2 linked regions of the Homo sapiens genome follow. The protein of the gene in region 2 purifies or fractionates together with the protein of the main gene of each other region. This does not show direct contact. Each region holds a gene or a part of one and is shown on either strand. Other genes may lie near its edges.

Region 1 (3,815 bases), about 19 Mb from region 2:
GTTCATTAAGAATTAGTCCTGAGGTTATAATATTTGTTTTGATTACACTGCTAAGATAACAAAATCAATGTCTTATCTTAGAAATCTTTTCTAATTCCCCAAGAAGTACTTTTTAAGAGCATATACCTAGATTCCCAAGTTTAAAAAGACACACCAAACCTAAGACAAAGCAAGCAAATCTAAGCATTTAGACACACGCATCCCTTCTGTGCATTAATAACAACATATTACTGAGTATTTTTGAAATTACCAAAATATAAGACCAACGCAAAAACACTGACCAGTGGGTTATCAGTAAGAACGTACATACAACAACCTGCTACTTACTTTCTTGACCACTGAAAGATTTGAATCACCGTCATCTATAATCTTTATTAGGTAGTCCCTGGTCTTTGTCAGATAATTTCTGCATTCTTCTTGTTCTTCAGGAGAAAGGGCATCATTTTCAATGTCTTCTGCCTTCCTGTGAAAAATCTATACAAATAGTGCTTTCATGAAATCATTAGCTTTTTAAAACAAAAAACTTTCAGCTTGGCCACGCATGGTGGCTCATGCCTGTAATCCCAGCAACTCGGGAGCTGAGGCACAAGAATCGCTTGAGCCTGGGAAGCAGAGGTTGCAGTGAGCCAAGATTGTGCCACTGCACTCTAGCCTGGCCAACAGAGAAACCCCGTCTTTTAAAAAAAATAATAAATAAATAAATACAACTTTTAGCTCAAGTACTGCATCTACTTACCAGTGCAAGATTCCAATAAGAAACAACACTTTTTATAGATTCAAAAGCAGTCACAGCATCTTCTATATTTCCATTTACTGCATCCAATATAGCAAAAGTTATGTGTGCGTCTTCTTCATATTCAACAATTTCTGATGCCTAAACACATAGAATAGTTTTTAGTCAAATTGTTTATACTCAGAATATAAAACCCAAATGATTTTCCAAAGATTTTATATGATCTTAAGAGACAAACATCTCATTACTCTTCTCTGTCATATCTTATCTGTGAGAGCTAGTGAATTTAGAAAACAAGATTACCGTTAAATAACAAGGCAATTAATTTAAGCAGTTTATAGCTCCACGTCTTTGTTTATAAACTGGAAATTCCCATCTCCAATAAATTCATAAAGGAACTCTGTTACCTGAATGTCTACACTATGAAAATGTTTAAACAGAGGATCAATAGGTTCAGGAATACTGTTCTTCTTTATTATCTTCAACAATGGCAAAACTTTCTTCCAATAATGAACACTTCTCCCTATGTATTCTAGTTGACCATAAAAAGAATTAAGACCGCTGCCCTAAAAAAGAAAGTTAAAAGCACACAACTTTAAGGAACACGCATGATTAGATCTAAAGTTCATTTACAAGTTGTAAGAACTGGCTAAAATTTCAAGTCAAAACCAAATGGTACCTCAATAGTCATTTGTTCAACTTCCAAATACTGTAATAACTAAACCACCTTAATACCAGTGAACTCACTGCAACCTCTGCCGTGCAGGTTCAAGCAATTCTCCTGCCTCAGCTTCCCAAGTAGCTGGGATTACAGGCACCTGCCACCATGTCTGGCTAATTTTGTAGTTTTAGTAGAGTTTTTTTTTGTATTTTTAGCAGAGACGGGGTTTCACCGTGTTAGCCAGGAATGATCTCGACCTCCTGACCTTGTGATCTGCCCGCCTCGGCCTCCTAACGTGCTGGGATTACAGGTGTGAGCCACCGCACCCGGCCTCTACACTCAACTTTTAAATGCTTCTAATGATACCACTCTAACGTAGCAATCCAAACTACTTTTTAACAGTTGTCCTTTTTAGATAGCTGAAACCTGCCTCTTCTGTAGTGTCAGTTTGTTCAAAAGGCTGACCATCTACACCTAATGGTGACACAAAACACACCTTAAATATTTAGAAAGATCTATAATGGTCTTACCTACAAAGCCTTGTGCTAATTTTTTTTTTAATTTTCAGGCTGAATAATTATCAGAACTTAATTATTAAGGAATAACAGTAACAGCTCAGCTAATATGTAACATTCACTGTGTGCCAGGCATTGCTCCTCTAAGTGCTTATATTTAACTACATTAACTATTTTGCAGCAATAAAAAACACATCTGTCATAATATGACCAAGCTGCTGTTTTCAGAACAAAAAAACTTTCAATAAAAAGTTCATGATTTTAAAAAATTAAGGTAATGTTCATTAAAAATGCTTATACTTTAAAACTCACCGTTTTCTGAAGGTATTTTGCCCAATGTACAAGCAGAGCAGGTTGAAGGCCATGTTTTTCCTGGGCTCTTAGAGTGTTTATTTCATGCTGAACTAGAAGTCTCAATTTTGCCAAGTTTCCAGGTCTAAAAAATAGTTCAATTTACTAAAATTGCTTTCTAAATACACAGTTCAGCGCTTACATACATATATGTTAATGGGTCACATGACAAATTAAATCTTCACACGAGGATTAAATCCCCGGTAAAACCTACGCACTAAGTGAAAGCAATATTTTTGTTTTACTACTTACACTGCTTTTCTGTGAATCAGAGTACAAACCGCATCCCACCAAGATTTTTGTCTTTCTGTACAAAGCTGTTTACACACAGGAAAGGGCAGGCATAACGGCTGATAGGAGCTATGGTGAGAATTACATTTCTCCTTTAATTGTAAGTGGCTGGTATATACTACTCCAAGGAGAAATACCTGTTTCATTTAAGGAAAAGTTAAGTTAGAAAAAAAAATTAAACAAAATTCAGAATATTTAATTTGTTAAAATCTTTGCTTACTTCAAGATCTAAAATACATATTGATTCAGGCGCATTTGTTTCAAGCCTTGAGGTTTCATGGGGCAAACGATGGAAAAGCTGTTTTAGCCATTTTCGGATTCCAGGTAAAGCAGGCAATGAATTCCACTGTAAGCCAAGCCAAGTAAGATGCTGAAGACTACCATTATGTGCTCGAATAGCACCTGAAATAAAATTTAAAAATTGGCTTAAGGGTTTGAAATTTTTCTTTGTGCCATTAGTTTTGCCAACATAAACAATTCACATTATATATATCTTAATTATATAACTGCTTTTCTATATCAAAGCTGGAGGGAATTCTATGTTAGGCAAAATCTCATGTTCTTATTAAATGCATTCTCACTTGATTATTTCTAGAAATTTTAATAAAAATAGTAGTGATGAAGAATGTTTAAGTCCATCTTAAAAAATGACACTGACTAGAACTCAATAAACCAAAATCAACTGACAAAAGCCAAATAAAGAACACCTAACCTAATAAGAAACCCCAAAACAATGGGTTTTGCTTTAAGTCATTAAAGCAATGGAACACCACTATATTAATCCATCGGTACAGTAAAGAAATCTGTTTTTCTACAAGAAAGTCAATATTGAAAATGTTATGCGCAGTCAGGAGTTCGAGACCAGCCTGGCCAGCATGGTGAAACTCCGTCTCTACTAAAAATACAAAAAATTAGCCGAGCACGGTGTCACATGCCTATAGTCCCAGCTACTTGGGAGGCCGAGGCAAGACAATTGCTTGAACCTGGCAGCCGAGATTGCGCCACTGCGCTCCAGCCTGGGTGACAGAGCGAGACTCTGTCTCAAAAACAAGAAAAGAAAAGAAAAGAAAAGAAAAGAAAAGAAAAGGTTATGCGCTTCTGGAAGCATGAAGAGGTATAATCTTTCTGTCATTTTGGCAATTTGCAAGACTTAAAGATGTTCATGTCCTTTGTCTCAGTAATTCTGTTTTTAGGTATCTCTATGGAAATAACTTGCAATGAAGACACTTTTTGTTGAAGTTTTTATCAGAGTATGATTATTAAC
Region 2 (3,915 bases):
TTGGACAAGTGGCAAGGAAACAGGACTCTGCTTCCTCCCTTTGTCCCCATGGTTGCTGCCCAGATGGCAGGAAGGGATCCCTGGATGGAGTGTGTCCAGAGCCCCTGGGCCCCCAGCATGTGAGGACTCAGAGCCATAGGGCTGGAAATCCTGGGCCTGGCCACAGCAGCAATCTGAGGCAAAGATCTAGCAGGGCAGGGGCTGTCCCAGGGGTTCCTTCCCATTTCAGCTCTACTTGGAGGAGGGAGGTCTGGGGAGCACCCTGTGCCCACCTCCCCACTGCAATGACCTCAGGCCCTGGGCTTCCCGAGAGCAGCACGTGCTGTGCTTGGCTGCATAACATCGTCCAGCCACGGCTAGAGGTAGCGGCATCTGTCCAGGTCCCCCAGAACCTGTACCCACTGGGTTGGCATACAGGGGCCAGTGCAGCCAGGTGGGCAAGGACAGTCTGGAGGGGCTCCCCTGGGTGGCAAGAGCATCCCATCAGTCACTGAAGGGCCCAGTTCTCACCTTTCTTCTGTGATGTCTGATTCATTATGAGCTTGTAATGGAGATCTGAAAGCAAGCACACGCTCTCCTCAGCACTTGTGAAACCACAGCTATTCTGAGAGAAGAAGCCTGGCCTGTCCTCTCCTGGCTGCTGAGCCCAAAAGTCCTGCCCCCCCACTGGCTGATTGGGCCCTGCCCCATGGATCCCGCTCTCCACCACGCCTTCGTCGTGGGTGTCAGGCCAGGAATGGCCCTGCCTGTTCCCTAGGCAGAGCCCACCGGGCATATCGGCCTCATCCATCTGAGATGACTGGAGGGCATCCACACTGCCCAGGCAGGGCCTGGGCTTTAGGGGTACAGAGGTGAACTCCGGAACCCCTGGCTATGGCAGTGTCATGATCCCGTGGGGATCAGGGACTGCGGGGGAGGCTCAAGAAGACATTAGGAACTGGGCGTCCTGAGGCTCAAGAAGACATGGGGAAGCGGGGTCCTGACAAAACAGACGCCTGGTGATGGGATACTCGGCACTCAGGTAAGGCAGCACCAGGGAACGGGGCGGGAGAGGAGGCCGCGGGCACTGGTGCCCTTGCTGGAGCCCTCCTGAAGCAAGATCGAGGAGCGGAGCCACATCCCACATCCTGGCGGGCCCTCCTTCTGCTCGGGGCAGGAGGGGTGGGGGAGGAGGGAGGGAGAAAGGGGGGCGTGGGGGTGAGGAGCAGCTAAGGGTGCAGTTGGGAAGGCCCCGCCGGAGGACAGCATGGGCACAGGCGAAGCGGGGACGGGGTGGGGGGCGGGGGAATGCCTGCTCCTGATCCGATGTGTTTAGCTGGAAGAAATTCATTGAGCTGCGCACTCGCACTTGGGCACGTTTCCCTGTATAAAGTTTTTGTTTTTGTTTTTTTGAGACGGAGTCTCGCTCTGTCACCGAGGCTGGAGTGCAGTCGCAAGATCTCGGCTCACTGCAAGCTCCGCCTCCCGGGTTCACGCCATTCTCCTGCTTCAGCCTCCCGAGTAGCTGGGACTACAGACGCCCACCACCACGCCTAGCTAATTGTTTTGTATTTTTAGTAGAGACGAGATTTCACCGTGTTAGCCAGGATGGTCTCGATCTCCTGACCTCGTGATCCGCCCGTCTCGGCCTCCCAAAGTGCTGGAATTACAGGCGTGAGCCGCCGCGCCCGGGCCCCTCTATAAAGTTTTTAACAGAGGTGTGTCTGACCCTGCTTGGAGAGGAGAGGATTGGCGGAGTCAGCATCTGAAATGCTGCTGCCCTACGAGACAGGCAGACAGGGTCGGCACTGCCCGGGGGCCACGCGGGTCTCCCTCTGGGAGGAGGGGACAGCTCAGCGTGGCAGGGCGGGCTTACCGTCCTGTGTTCCCCCTGAGCCCAGGCGTGTGCTGGAGTTGATGGCTGTGTTTCTGTGCTGCGGGAGCGGCAGTGTTGAGTGTGCCTGGGGAGGCAGGGCCGGCCTAGGGCCCCGCGCCGGCTCACCCTTGTTTTCCCGCTTCAGATGCTCGATCTCCTCATGGAGCTTGGCCAGCATCTCCGAGTGCTGCTGCTGCAGGAACTGCAGGCTTTTCTCCAGGTCCAGGTTCCGTTTCTGCGGGTCGCTCTGCCTGAGCTGCGGGCTCTGCGGCCTCAAGGACTGGACGCCCACAGAGGGGCGCTGGCGCCGGCGCCGAGAGCCCGGGGTCGGCGAGCTGGGGGGCCGCGTCCCAGCCGCCACCCCCGCACCGCTCATATCGCCATCGCCAGGTACTCTCCCGCTGCCACTGCACCCCGGCTCAGTGGCCAGGCCGCCCTAGCCTGGCGCCCCGTCACCATGGAAACCGGGCGACGGAAGGCGCGAGGCGGTTGGCGGGGGCGGGGCCTGTCGCTGGCTCTTCCTGGGTGAGTAGTGATTTACAAGGCATCCAGGGCTGGGCGCCGGGGCTCACGCCTGTAATCCCCGAAGTTTGGGAGGCCGAGGCGGACGGATCATTTGAGGTCAGGAGTTCGTGACCAGCCTGACCAACATGGCGAAACCCCAACTCTACTAAAAATACAAAATGTAGCCGGGTGTAGTGGCGGGAGCCAGTAATCCCAGCTACTCTGGAGGCTGAGGCAGGAGAATAGCTTGAACCGGGAGGCAGAGGTTGCAGTGAGTCGAGATCGCACCGCTGCACTCCAATCTGGACGACAGAGACTCTGTCTAAAAAAATAATAATAAAAGGCATCCAGGCATCCTTTCCAGCCTGAATGGAAAGTGAGACCCCGTCTCTAAAAAATTAAAAGAAAAAAAACCCGGGCATGGTGTCTTGCGCCTGTAGTCCCAACTGCTCGGGAGGCTAAGGCGGGAGGATTGCTGGAACCCCAGAGGTCGAGGCTGCAGTGAGCTATGATGGCACCACTGAACTCCAGCCTAAGTGACAGAGTGAGATGCTGCCTAAAAATAAGAGGCTGGGCGCGGTGGCTCACACCTGTAATCCCAGCTACTCCGGAGGCTGAGGCAGGAGAATCACTTGAACCCAGGAGGTGGAGGTTGCAGTGAGCCAAGATCGCGCCATTGCACTCCAGCCTGGGTGACAGGGTGAGACTGTGTCTCAAAAAATAAATAAATAAATAAATAAATTTAAAAATAATAAAAATAAAAAGAAGTCTTATTTTTTTTACAAGGCCTGCCCTCAAAAAAAAAAAAAAAATCACAGCCAGGCCAATCATAATTTTGCCAGATACCAGCAAACCTGGAGGAAGGGAACATAGCTAACCCCAGCCTGCTCTGGCTCTCCTTTCCCCACATCTTACTGCCACATCAGCGGGGCTCCTGTATAATAACAGGGGATACAAGTGAAAGAACTGCTCATCTCAGAGCTTATTCAAGAAATCTCTAGGAAACCGTAAAGGCAACAGGGAGACAAAAACTAAGACACTAGAGGAGGTTTAAGCCTCTGACACCTCCAGTTAACAAACAGAACACATGGCGCAACCCCTAACCAGACCAACATAAAACTTCACACAGAAAGTCCATTTACTGGTTGAGCACGACCAGCCCTCAACAAAAACTTGCAAGGCATAATAAAAAACAACACAGTTTGAAGACACAGCAAACATCAGAGCCAGACTTAAATATGGCAGAGATGTTGGAATTATCAGACCAAGAAATGGAATACAACTATGATTAATATGCTAAGGGCTCTAATGGAAAAAGTGGACAACATGAGATTACAGACTGATAATGGGAACAGAGAAGTAGACATTCTAAGAAATAATCTAAAGAAAATGTGAAGGCCAGGCAGGGTGGCTCATGTCTGTAATCCCAGCACTTTGGGAGGCCAAGTTGGGCAGATCATTTGAGGTCAGGAGTTCAAGACCAGCCTGGCCAACATGGTGATATCCCATCTCTACTAAAAAATACAAAAATTAGCTAGCGTGGTGGCATGCACCTG

What was found.
Region 1: the proteins of CCDC74A (region 2) and RGPD8 purify together in Homo sapiens (affinity purification with mass spectrometry; one large-scale study listed by BioGRID and IntAct). This does not show direct contact.

Annotation. Positions count from the first base shown.
Region 1 is NC_000002.12:112,398,896-112,402,710, forward strand, and holds part of RGPD8 (RANBP2-like and GRIP domain-containing protein 8), read right to left. Parts: intron 2,954-3,815; coding exon 2,772-2,953; intron 2,689-2,771; coding exon 2,513-2,688; intron 2,346-2,512; coding exon 2,222-2,345; intron 1,300-2,221; coding exon 1,141-1,299; intron 875-1,140; coding exon 737-874; intron 475-736; coding exon 328-474; intron 1-327.
Region 2 is NC_000002.12:131,526,287-131,530,201, reverse strand, and holds the start of CCDC74A (coiled-coil domain-containing protein 74A), read right to left. Parts: upstream 2,315-3,915; 5' UTR 2,232-2,314; coding exon 1,982-2,231; coding exon of another isoform or gene 1,856-1,981; intron 556-1,855; coding exon 511-555; intron 505-510; exon of another isoform or gene 225-504; coding exon of another isoform or gene 1-224.